Regions from separate parts of the Homo sapiens genome. Here regions 2 and 3 are each reported to be linked to region 1. Evidence: microRNA targets listed by miRTarBase, many of them from high-throughput screens and not tested one by one. Region 1 holds a microRNA gene; each other region holds the end of a gene's coding sequence.
The links. Region 1 holds the annotated microRNA hsa-miR-181b-3p (CUCACUGAACAAUGAAUGCAA, at 1,414-1,434, shown strand). A microRNA usually pairs through its seed, bases 2 to 8, with sites in the 3' UTR of a target mRNA and lowers its output. Matches are read on the target gene's strand: a 7mer-m8 pairs with bases 2 to 8, a 7mer-A1 pairs with bases 2 to 7 and ends in A, and an 8mer does both.

Region 2: the mRNA of RIMKLB is a reported target of hsa-miR-181b-3p. Seed matches in the 3' UTR shown: 7mer-m8 at 845-851 and 8mer at 3,573-3,580.
Region 3: the mRNA of MRPS25 is a reported target of hsa-miR-181b-3p. Seed matches in the 3' UTR shown: 7mer-A1 at 2,248-2,254.

What each region holds. Positions count from the first base shown.
Region 1 is chr1:198,856,075-198,860,320 of GRCh38, reverse strand. It overlaps MIR181B1 (microRNA 181b-1), which reads left to right and starts at 1,339; the gene lies at 1,339-1,448. All of the region lies in intron 2 of MIR181A1HG (MIR181A1 host gene), which reads left to right. It overlaps MIR181A1 (microRNA 181a-1), which reads left to right and starts at 1,168; the gene lies at 1,168-1,277.
Region 2 is chr12:8,773,346-8,777,591 of GRCh38, forward strand. RIMKLB (ribosomal modification protein rimK like family member B) reads left to right here. Exons shown (of 6, transcript NM_001297776.2): 6 at 1-3,846. The coding sequence ends at 439. It overlaps A2ML1-AS1 (A2ML1 antisense RNA 1), which reads right to left. Exons shown (of 2, transcript NR_046715.1): 2 at 2,866-3,039. Among named protein-coding and RNA genes, the nearest start is that of LINC02972, 13 kb to the right of the region's middle.
Region 3 is chr3:15,049,010-15,053,255 of GRCh38, forward strand. MRPS25 (mitochondrial ribosomal protein S25) reads right to left here. Exons shown (of 4, transcript NM_022497.5): 4 at 1-3,624. The coding sequence ends at 3,432. It overlaps NR2C2 (nuclear receptor subfamily 2 group C member 2), which reads left to right. Exons shown (of 14, transcript NM_001291694.2): 14 at 1-264. Among named protein-coding and RNA genes, the nearest start is that of MRPS25, 14 kb to the right of the region's middle. RefSeq lists an enhancer at 1,424-1,503.

The DNA.
Region 1 (4,246 bases):
ATTTACTTCCAGTTGATCTCTAGTCCCTGTTTCTCTCAAAAAAAATCTGTTGAAGTTTTCATGTAAATAGTTTGTCTAAAAGGTTAAACAATTATTGGCTTTAAAATAATTCTAAGTGACTGAAATGTAAGAATGTGTAAAAATTTGGGATACATATTTCACTAACATTTCGAGAGTAATTGCCTTGACTTGAATAGACCATTATCACCTTCAAAGTAGCATTCCAAATTATTGTGGGTTGTCCCTCCTACAGATAATTACTCTATAACCATATTAGATGCAACTTAAATGTGTGAAATAATGACTTTCTATTCTGGTTTAGATACATCCAAGGTGACTTTTGTTTTAATTGATGGTAGAAAATTATTGAAAATGGCTCTAAAAATAAATTCAGTAGAGTTCATAATAATTTTAAAATAAGCATTAATGATAAAACAGTCTTAGAAAATAAGACTATGAAAAGAATCCCTCACCCATCTACCCATAAAGAGATGTTAGATGTTAGATGTTATTTAAAATAATAGGAAATGAACGGTTTTGTAGCATACATAGATTGTATTTACCTTTCACTGTATTCATGAACTCTTTGTGCCATAAACTAAGAAAAATGTATTGAGCTGGTTTCTTCACTTATAATTTGTTCAGCATTTTCTAAATAAGATTGTTCTTAGGAAGTTATACTAATTTTAAAACCTTATTTTAGAATAAAATATAGTAAATATATAATGTAAATATAAATGATATCATCAATGCCAATTTGAGGAAATCTAAGGTAATTCTGTTTAATTTCTGTATAAGCTATATACATAATGCTTGCTTACTATAAGCGTAACAATATTTAAATTATAAGATATTGTTTGGATTTTATACCACAAAGTACTTTGAATAACAAATTGTCCCTGTCTTTAACAGTGAGATAATTCCATCTCTGGAACTAGCCCAATATCGGCCATGTTTTTGCTTAATGAAACCGATCCTTTTCTCTCATACAATGTGATGTGGAGGTTTGCCAAACTCTTTGTTGGAAGAATCATGCTTCTTATTTGTCTTCTTTTGTAGTCTTTTGAAATGGCATAAAAATGCATAAAATATATGACTAAAGGTACTGTTGTTTCTGTCTCCCATCCCCTTCAGATACTTACAGATACTGTAAAGTGAGTAGAATTCTGAGTTTTGAGGTTGCTTCAGTGAACATTCAACGCTGTCGGTGAGTTTGGAATTAAAATCAAAACCATCGACCGTTGATTGTACCCTATGGCTAACCATCATCTACTCCATGGTGCTCAGAATTCGCTGAAGACAGGAAACCAAAGGTGGACACACCAGGACTTTCTCTTCCCTGTGCAGAGATTATTTTTTAAAAGGTCACAATCAACATTCATTGCTGTCGGTGGGTTGAACTGTGTGGACAAGCTCACTGAACAATGAATGCAACTGTGGCCCCGCTTTTTGCTGTCACAATCAACAGATATTCCATCTTTGAAAGATGTGTTCAAAATAGTACTATTGTTCTTTAAGTTTTCCAATTCGTCAGCATCTTCTGGTTTATTTATTCAATTTATATCATGTGATGAGATTTCAATGAAAAAGACTCTGGTTTAAACAAGAATAATGCTTCTCTATCTTTTGTATGCTATAAACAGAGCATGTTTTAGAAAAGGCAAAACTATTTTGTCCATCAAACGTACAGTATCATCATCTAGGTTAGCTCACCTTCCTACTGTTGTAGTGTGAGTGAAAAAAAGACATAAAGTAGGACCTCAGCACCCATGCCATTGACAATAACACACTTACAAATATGTGTTCTTTACAACTTTTGTTAGATGTTCTGGTCAAAGTGGGATAGAAACACCAGATAATTTTAGCTTTCTGCTTCTCTGGGTGAGGATTTGCTCATATAATTCTGCCTCTTGCTATGTAACATGCTAAATACGAAGAAAATAATATATACATAACTATATAACTATCAGAACACTCATGACAGTCATATAGTAGATTGATTTTCCCAATTCAATTTCCACTTTAAAACTTTACCCACTTTCTATGTGCATGAACTGCGTGGTTAGACTTACAGTCATGGCCCATTAATTGCCTCATGTTTACTCATCTGACTTTGCAAGTAAAAGCCTATGCATATCATGGTTTTTCTTAAGTGGTTTGCCTCTGCATTTTTATATAGGACATCTGTCATTAAATTTGATCACAGCAGTTTTAAGTTTACCATTTGTAATGATAATAATTATATAGCAAAATAAAATGCTTTCTCAAGTGTCTATGTTTGGAGTACCTGGATGGCTTCAATGTTCATTTTTTTTTAATGGTCAAATAAATTATCCTTTCTTTTCCTTGATCTTTTAAATCCCATTTGCCTTTAACTCCCATTACAGAAACCCATTGCTGGGACCCGGCTCTTGACCTCATCATAACCTTAAAATATTTTACCACATTCGATATCTAATATCCCACTCTGTCTATCACTTCTTACCATTCTAGTTTCTCATTCTCTTATCTCCAAGGCAACTGTCCTTTCAATATCAGTGTTGCTGAAAAATAAAATCACATCATCATATGGACACATTAATACACATACTCAGGGGCCTCCAAGTGCCTCAGTCCCTCAACTCTGACCCAGCATTTCTTCTACTCCACTCCCTCATGTTTAGCCTAAATGTTTACCTCTTTCCTCAACTGCTCCTTTCCACGATTCCACTCTCAACAGATGAACTGACTTCTGTTTTTCATTGAGAAGCTTGAGTCCATGTGATTATTCCCTCCACTTCCTTGTTTATAGCCTATGAATGCGTAGGATTCTGCCCTGAGTTGTCTCACGTGAGCCTCCTGCCTTGCTTGGGACATCTCTTCCCCTGTGATATCCCCCTCCTCTCTCACCATCTGGCTCCATTTCACATGTAACAAGGTTCAGTTTTCTCTCTTCTCAAATAGAAAACAAAAGAAATTTGAGAAAAACTTCTCTATACTTGCTTTATCCTCAAGTTACTTACCCCACTTCTTTTCTTCTTTTTAAAAGCTAAGATTTTAGAAATAGTACATAGTAGCCTGCAGCACTGTCTATATTTGTTTACTTCCCATTTCACCTCAACTATATGTAATTTGGCATCTTCTACCATTTCTCTCTCCCACTTGTGCATAACATCATTCTAATGACACTGCTTTTCCCCAAATCACCAGTGAGCTCCATATTGCCAAATACAAATCAAACTTTTCTGCCAGTTGTCCTACTCGAACTCCCCTTGATGCCTGACACAGCTGACCACTTCTTCCTAAACTCCAGTCCCCATTCACTTTTGTGATCCTACTCTCATTTGGATTTCTCTCTTTATTACAGTGATGTCCTATTTATTTATTTATTTTTAAGAAGCTCTTCATCTGCTTGAACTCCCAATGCCAGTATCCTTCTGAGACCCATTCTTAACTTTATGGCTTTTTTTCTCTTCTCTTGTCTCACAATCTTTGAAGGAATCTCAGGCACGTGAATGATGTTTACATCTGCTCAGATGCTGCAGATACCCAAGTCTTTATCTCCAGCTTACACATCCCAAAGCTACATATCTGTCTTCTGCTCTTCTCACAGACCAAAGCCCATCCATGACTACAGATAACGTATCATCTTTTTCCCAAGGGATAACACTCTTGATCTACTTGGAAACCAAAGCCATAAATCTCAATTCATTTCATGTTCCTGGACCTTGCTTCCTCTCCTTTTCTAAACATACAATCGCACAGTCCTGAAGATGTTCACTTTTTATCTTGCTAATATTTCAATTATTCTGTATACTTCTACTGAACTTTAGTCCAGAAACGCACACCTCTTACTTGGACTATTCCAATGGTCTCCTAACTCCCACCATCAGCCATCCATCTGTTCAATATTTTCTTCACAGTATTTTAAAAAGTGATTTTAAAAATGTAATCATATTGTGAAACCGTTTAATCCACTTGGAATAAAATGTTTAATAGATGGATCGTTCTGGCGGGAAAAGCATTGTGAATATTAGCTAAATGAGAAAAAGATAATATCTGGAACTTCGTACAAGTTCTCAAGCTTAATTTCAGTATATTAATGAATTAAATGTAATTTCTGAAAATTTTCTAAAATAAACGTAGTTGAAAATTTAATATCCTTGAAATGATGAAGAACATTTTCAATTTTAACACAAACGAGGCAAAAAGAAAAGACAAGCATGACTTTGACTACATTGAACTTCAAACTATAACGTGTCAAAAA
Region 2 (4,246 bases), not on the chromosome of region 1:
GAGTGAACAAGGGAAGCAGCTAGCTATCCAGGTGTCTAATATCCTGGGGATGGATGTGTGTGGCATTGATCTGCTGATGAAAGATGACGGCTCCTTCTGCGTCTGTGAGGCCAATGCAAATGTAGGTTTCATCGCCTTTGATAAGGCTTGTAATCTAGATGTAGCTGGTATCATAGCAGACTATGCCGCCTCCCTTCTACCCTCTGGCCGGCTCACCCGGCGTATGTCCCTGCTCTCCGTGGTGTCCACTGCCAGTGAGACTAGTGAGCCGGAGCTGGGTCCCCCAGCCAGCACTGCTGTTGACAACATGAGTGCAAGTTCCAGCTCTGTTGACAGCGACCCTGAAAGCACGGAGCGAGAGCTGCTCACCAAGCTCCCAGGGGGCCTGTTCAACATGAACCAGCTGCTAGCCAATGAAATCAAACTACTGGTGGACTGACTCCACTGGTAATTAACCAACAAAACCCTTGTAAAACTTTCTTTCTTCTTTTCTATTTTTAAAACCAACTTGCAATGCTGTTCATGGAGGATGCTCAGGAAGATGAGAGAAAATTAGTAGGATTAGTTGGAGAGAGTGGGAGATAGATGAGACCTCTGCTAGTAAGATGTTACTTTCATTTACAAATCCTACAAATAGAGAGGCAGAATAGGTGGGGTATAGAAAAATGTCAGGCTCTCATAGTTACCCTTTTAAATTGCTAAAAAATGTGTATGCTCATAGGCCATGAGGAACAAATACTTTTTTTTTTTCATGGTCCCTTGCTTTTGTTTTTGTACAAAAAAAAATGGTTTTGCTACAAATATCCAAGTAGCATAACTTCACATTGTGTTGGAAGATTTGTCATCAGTGAGGAAAACATCTGCATAAATTACAGGAATTTTTGTATTATACAGCTCTGAAAATTCTGCCATTTCCTTATTAACTAGCAGCTTTAGTTTGTAGTTTATGAAATCTTGAGGGGCTCTTTTACTGGGATTTCTTATTTTTTTGTTTTTTCCCGCTTAATTTGGTGGGAGGTCAAATTGAATATAACCCAATAAAGGCTTCTTAATGACAAAATTGGCATGTTTGCATGATGAAATGGAAATGAACAGTATTGCAATGTCCGGTATACAAAATAACATTAATTCAATGTAGATAAAATTACACTAGTTTAAAATATGTGCATTCACTTGTATTTGTTAGTGTTTTAGTCTTTTTTGAAAGATGTGCTCTGTTAATGTTGCTTTTTTTTTTTTTTTTAATACATGCTAGTCTAACATTTCCTGCTCTATGCCTGCATCTTTAACAATGGCCAAAGTGAAGAAAATGCTACCTTTTTTGTTAACAAGACACTGACTTGAAACATGTACATTTAAAGCCTTTTATTTTTTCCCTTTTTGTTTTGGTAGTTGGGCATTTAAATAAGGACAAGGAAAAATATTTTTGGGGGCAAATCAAGAGCCTATGAGTTCTAAGTATAAAGCTGAAGTGATTTCGAATGCCAGCGTTATATATTTGCATTTTTCACATTTTACGAGGGAGTATATGTGTATGTGTGTGCACGCATGCATGTGTATGTGTTTTGCTTTTTGTTTCCATCAACTAATCAAAAAGGATAATTTAGAAAATGGAGCATGATGGGAAACAGAGTTTTTGACTTTAAAAAACAGATGAGTTGTTTTCATAAGTAGACTCCACTGGGGTAGAGGTATTCACCTTAAAACATAGGGTGAGTAGATGCTTTTTTAGGCCTTTTTGTGTATATGTACGTTGTTTGTTTTTTTCCTTTTGTTTCTAGCCTGTTCAGTGTACAGTTTATTCAAGGCTACATGCTTTTCTTTAATGCTTCTGGCTATGCATTTTCTCTTTTTACATATAGGATTTGGGATTGGGGGTGGGTTGGATGTTTTTGTTTGGGGACTTATTTAGTAGTATTGAGTCTCTTATAGCCCTACTCTTAAGCCTTCAATACTGTCCACTCTTTATATTCCTTTACTTGCAGAATTTATAAAAGCCCCCAAACTGCATATAATATGAGCCTTTAAAACATGGGTAAAACTAATCCCATTGATGGGTTTGGATGGTATGTTAAGAAATGGAGATGCTGCAGAGCCCAACGTAATTTTTTAAACAGCAAGTTTTCCATCTCCCTACGAATCCTCTGAAGCTTTTACCCAAGCCCTTTCTTGCCTCTCCAGTGCTATTTTCCTTCAGATGGACCTTAAACATAATTTCTTGGACACTACTAGAGAGACTTCGAGGCAATAATAAAAGATCAGTATTAACCAGCTATAACAGAGGTTTGATCATGCTTACTTGTACAGTTTTTCCCCCGTTTTAAAAAGGAATGTAATAAAATTTGTTTTTTCCATAGAATTAAATAATATTAAAATTGAGTGAAAGGTTGATTGTTGATGAATAGAATAGTACCTCTCATCTGTGCAGTGTCTCATTTCACCTCAGAGAAAAGGATACATAAGAGGAGTTTGTAATTTATCTTAGGATATTCTAATTGCATTTAAAAGAACTTATCTTGCGCAGGGTAAATGGGGGACTCACATACATATATTAATACCTCTGACTCATTAACAGAAAGAAATACTTGGTACTTCTTTCGCTGAATGACCATACTGTGGAGGATGCATACTATTTGGTATAGAGAAATAAATGAGGAAGAAAGAACTGCTTAATTAAATTATCATTCATATGTTCATATAGAGACCATCTGGTTGCCATGTGTATTATGACACATACACTTTGAATAGTTACATATCACAAGTATGTAGTTCATGTTTGTGTTGGTGGGGTAAGGCATCAGGAAAAATGTAGTTAGTCTTTTCTTAACTTATACCAAATTAACCAACTATATTATAGGAAATATGTGAAATTAGTTCATTAGCTTTATTCACTATTATGCATTCACATGATATTAAAACGTACACTCACATGTTAGAATGAAAAGAGCAGTAGTTATCTTAGATTTTAAAAACATGGATATCTTCTTGAATTCCTTCAAGATTGAGGTAGAGAATAAGAGCAAATCATTCTGGAAGTACCTTAAGGAAACAAACAGCAGCAGATATTTAGGTTAAACTTATTTTCATAATTGTTTAATAACTTTTGTATAATCTTCATTGCTATTATGAGAGAGAATGTATATATCAAATATGTGTAATGATAAAATCTGAATTGTAAAATTTTTGTATATTGTTAAAATTGTAATTCTAAATTGTATTTCAAAAATGATTATTTCTGATATTGTTTTTATGTCACCCATGATGAAAACTGGACTTTATATATCTAAACATACAAGTATGAACTATTCTATTTAAAATTTTTAATAGTTTTTTTCTTTTTTGGTGCCTATAATTGATTGGTCATTTCTGCTGGCTTTTCTCCAATGAACATTGAAATCTTCCTGTATATGTTACCAATAAGAAAACTACCCTGGAACAGTAGAAAAACCCAACAAGAGACTTGGCATTCATCAAGCACATTATCAGACTTTGAGAACATATTGAAGGCATTGACTTTGAAAATCATCTCTTTTTCTCAAGAAGAAAGCAATGGAGAAGCAAATTTGTTTCATTCAGTGAATCCCCAGTTTGGGGCTTGTGGGGCTTAGAGACATTGTGAAATCAAATCTTGTGTTATACTTTTCTCCTGGCTCACTTTTTTTGAGAAGGTTTATGGGCTATTTGGCTGGTGAGACACGATCCCCTCCTAAGAAAATGTAGGTGCTCAGACAGGTAACCACTGCTGCTACTGTTTTTATTTGTTTGTTTGTTCAATTTTATTTAAGATTTGTTTTTGTTGTACTAGGATTTTAAAAAATGTAATATATTGCAGGATTTATAACCAGGTTCACTGACTGCTTGCTTGCTTTCTTTTTTTTTTTTTTTTTTTTTTTTTCTTCTTAAAAAAACAAAACAAAGTTTCATTTAAAATACATTTAGGCACCTTTGGAGCTTGGATTTTGGAATGTTTCAGTAGTGGACAGAAATCTGCTGTTGGAATCTTCTAGTCTTCCAGGTTTAATTTGAAATGTTTTTAGTTTTGTTTTGGATTTTTGTGTGGTATTTTATTTCCTTTATACCAATGCCATTTTGCCATGCTGTTTTGGGGTGGCTGCCTAACTCTAGTGAAAATTCTTTCTATATTAATGAAAGTTTGGCCTTTGAAGATCCTTAATGTTTTGCATTTTTTACATTGTTTTTAAAGAAATATTCTAACTGCTTGCACTGTTACTGTTCTTTACCAGCC
Region 3 (4,246 bases), not on the chromosome of region 1:
AGCTTTCTTCTCCCTGTGAAATCACTTTGTTTATGTGATGGCATTTAAAAAATAGCATGTTCTTTTTAAACTGAATTTTATATCTAATCAATGTCTTCAGTCTTGAAGAAGAATTTGCATTGTTGTGTTTGTATATAGAGTATTGCAGTGCATGAATTAGCTTTATGCATTTTATTAAATGCTGTTTCAATGTGGCATTATTGTTGTGGCTTAATACTACTACCTAAATGAGGTTTATACTATTAAAAGTGAATTAAAGACTAACATGCATCCTGCTCTTCATTTTTCTTCATGATAGTAGTAATGCCTGGCCCCCAAACAATGCAGCGCTCTCTTGTGTTATGGACATGAAGCATCCTGGTGGTCCTGTCTCTACAGCTCTCTGGCTCCTACCTTAGCCTTAGCGGCCAAGAGGGATTGGGCCCTCTGTGGTCCACTGGACTTATTAATACCTTTAGTGGGAAACCCTGGCAGGACAGTCTTTACATCCACCCAGCAAGGCAGCTCCTTGGTGTGGAGGTAGGGAAGCCACACACATGTTTCTGGAGCAGAGCACAGTTAGGCTGCTGGAACATTCAGATGCCATTACAGACAGGCCTTAAATTGGCAAGCTTATTCTCTAAGGATACGTGCTATCAAGGGCAAAAACAAGCTCCAAAAGTTTCAGAAGTTAGAACATATTCATTATGTCATCTGACCTCTCATGTTCCAGGTGAAAATTCTGAGGTCCAAAGTCTGATGCATGACAGAACTCACTGGCAGGCAGATAGGGCCTCACTCCGTCACCCAGGCTGGAATGCAGTGGTACAGTCATGGCTCACTCCAGCCTCAACCTCCTGGGCTCAAGTGATCCTCCTGCCTCAGCCTCCTGAGTAACTGGGACCACAGCAGATGATACAGGTTTAGATGGTGCTGCCAGGTAGTGCCTCAAAGAGAAGAAAAGTGGTCACTTCAGAATAAGGCTGTGAACACTGCTTGTGCAAGTAAAATTAAGAACATGTTATCAATTATAAAATCCTCACATTTTCTCTAATTAATTTTCTCCCATTTCTGTATATTTTAAACCCATCTTTCATCACTACTAAACAAAATAGGGAAAGACAAAGGTTTAAAGAGAAACTATCCAGGATCAAGTAGCCTACAGGGAACAAAAAAAGAAAATAATGTTTATTTCCACAAATTATCTGCTGCCTGTGAAGCTGGCCACACAGGCAGTAACTGCACCACAGGACTGCTGCTGTCTCCACACGTCCTTTCAGGGTCTGGGCTGTCCACCTCACTGCCCATTGCTCCTGTGTCAAGCCTGAACTCAAACCCTAGTTATCTGTCCCATTAGGGACCAGACATTTATTCTGTCTAGAGAATGGTCACCACTCCTTTTGGTTCAGGACATTCCTGCTGGTTAGCAGCCTCTTTGGGCCCTAGAGGGAAGGAATACTCTCATAAGGCTTTGTGTGTCACTAGCTATGGAGACCTACACTGCAGATGAAAGCCAAAAGGAACTAGGTGCTTTCTGAAGAGCCCTTGCAGCCAAGTAGAACGCCCAGGCAGGTGGTATCAAGGTCAAGACTTCAGTCAGTTGGGTGGGGAACTGAAACCAGCAGACATGGGAGGGCTCTCTGTGGAGGAGAGCTTTTTCCACCCAGCCAAAATGCTGATAGCAGAGAGACAAGATGCTAGATTTCAATTAAACACTCCCTTTGTAAGTCTGTCACTCAAGGAACACCTGTCCATTATACATCAGTCTCTGCCCACCTTCCCCTCCCACCCCCGACAAGCCATCACCCCAAACCCAGATCTGGTACAGAATCAAACTTGAGCATCAAATGTAAAAGATCCAAATCTGCTCAATTTAATGTGATAATCTCCAACAGTTAATGAAACACATCGTAGTATGACATCATTTCACCAGCCAGCTACTTCATGTGGCAGAAAAGGTAACCTTTTCCCCATTTTACAGACAAAACCAGTTACAGACCTGGAAAGCTTTTAGGACTTGACCAAGGCCCCAGCAGGTAGAGGAATGAAAACTTCAGTCCTGCTCTGTCAAGCACCACTGTCCTTTTTTAATTCTTTTAACCACTGCCTTCCTGTCTCAGATAAAGTCAGGTCTCCTTGGCTGAGTTTCTAGGGGTCCGTGGTCCAACTGGTCCTTCACTTTATAATTAAACTTATTTAAAAAATTTTTTTTCTTGAGACAGTCTTGCTCTGTGGCCCAGGCTGGAGTGCAGTAGCGCACGATCATGATTCACTGCAGCCTTGATCTCGCAGGCTCGAGATCCTCCCACCTCAGCTTCCCAAATAGCTGGGACTACAGACGCGAAACACCACACCCATCTAATTTTTGTACTTTTTGTAGAGACAAGGTCTTGCCATGTTGCCCAGGCTGGTCTCGAACTCCTGGGCTCAACTATCCGCCCACATCAGCCTCCCAAAGTGCTGGGATTACAGGCATGAGCCACCACACCCAGCCTAGCTAAACCTATTCTTAAGGTGACCCTAGAAGGCTCTGCTGTCTTCTGGAGGCTGAAACCTCCACTTTAGCATAACTAAAGTGACAGTAACATCAGTGTCCTATGAGGAAAGAACAAGGAAGGTGCTCAGTAATGCAGCACTCCCTCCTCCAGAGCTTGGTAAGCAGGGCCTGAGGGAGCCAGCAGAGCCAGCTATAGACACCATCCCCCCAGCAGGGCCCCAATGTCTCCACTAGGTGGTGTCTCCTCATTTCCTCCATGGCCTACAAACCTCCCTGCTAATGCACACAGTGGCTGGGCCATGGGTTGGCAGTGGCTGACTGGTCAGCAGGTACGTGCCTGAGTGAGGCTGGCCTGTCAGCCACTGGGGCTCCTCCATCTCTGGCCCATGGCTAGGCCCCCCAGCAGGCAAGGGTAATCAACTGTACTTAAAAAAGTGAGCACTGCACGAAGGGTTGCCTTTGGATTTCTGAAAAATACCCCCAAGGAACTGAACGGAGGGGTGTACACACTGCCAACCACAGACAGTGCTAGCCAGACTCAACCACAGCAGCCCTTATGTTCTCCAGAGTAGAGCCCAGAGGAAGATTCAAAGCCAGCGGAGACCAGTAAAGGGTCGCAGGACCAAAACAGGTGTCAACAGGCTGTGGCCTTAACCTCTCAGGCCCAAAGCCTTTCTGCTACACAGGCCTTCCTCTTCACTAGGACCAGATACACGCCAAGCTGCTATTAGGAAGCGTTTTATTGACCAGCAGAGCAGGGATATTCATTTAGCAGCTCAGCTTCAGACCCTCCTCTCCCACATCCTTTTACACAGGTGTGTAAAGTCCTTTTAATGCAAAAGGATTTCCAGAGTCTCCAGGGACAGAACCAGGGGCTTCCCTGGGCCAAAGTAATCCCATTCCAATCTCCCCACTGGTCAGACACCATCACCCCAGCCCACAGTGACCGTGGGCCTTAGTCCTGGGCATCGGCTTTCAGAGCGGCTTTGTACTTCCCCCTCATCTCCTTGGGTAATGGCACCAGGCTGGGGCAGGGCACCTGCCCTTCCACTTCACAGATGCACTCCCGCAGGCAGTACTTTCGAGGGCCGAAGTTGGCTGGGTGAGAAAGCTGCTTTTTCTCCTCCTCCTCTTCCCTGAGGGTTTCCCTGCCAAAGAGCACAGACGGCAACCAAGCATTGGCAACTTTGAGTGGCAGGCACAGGGCAGTTTCTCAGCCGAGACAACCCCACCATCCACCAGGGACACCTGGATCTCCTGCCTTCTAACCTGATCCTCACTGTCAAAGCCTATCGCTGTCTCCCTGCTGGCCCCTGAGGAGAGCGCTGAAAGAAGGCCTGCTGTTGTCCCCTCACACCACAGCAGCAAGCCTACACAGTGCGGTCAGCCTATCTGCTGCCACAGGTGGAGCCCACAGCTCTCACATGCAATCACAAGATAAAGGAGCCTGAAAAGGCCTCTGTGTGGTTTCTCAAAGACAGACTTTTTCAGCTTCCGTCCCTTTCTGTCTCCTCTCATTCATGGAAAGAAAGACCTGTCACCAGGAGCCCTAGGGCTAGATGTCTGCTAGCTCCAAGCTGAGATTCCCAGGAGAGATGGGTTAGCAGCTGCACAGGGCCACAAGTCAGCTGCATTTCAGCTTCCCGTCCCCCGCAAGAGGGAGAGAGGTACTTCTCACACTGTACAGCCAAGGGAGATAAAGCTTACAGAGGTTTAATGATTTGGTAAAGAGCAACATCAGAAAGAACTGATTCTACAGCCCCAGCTCTT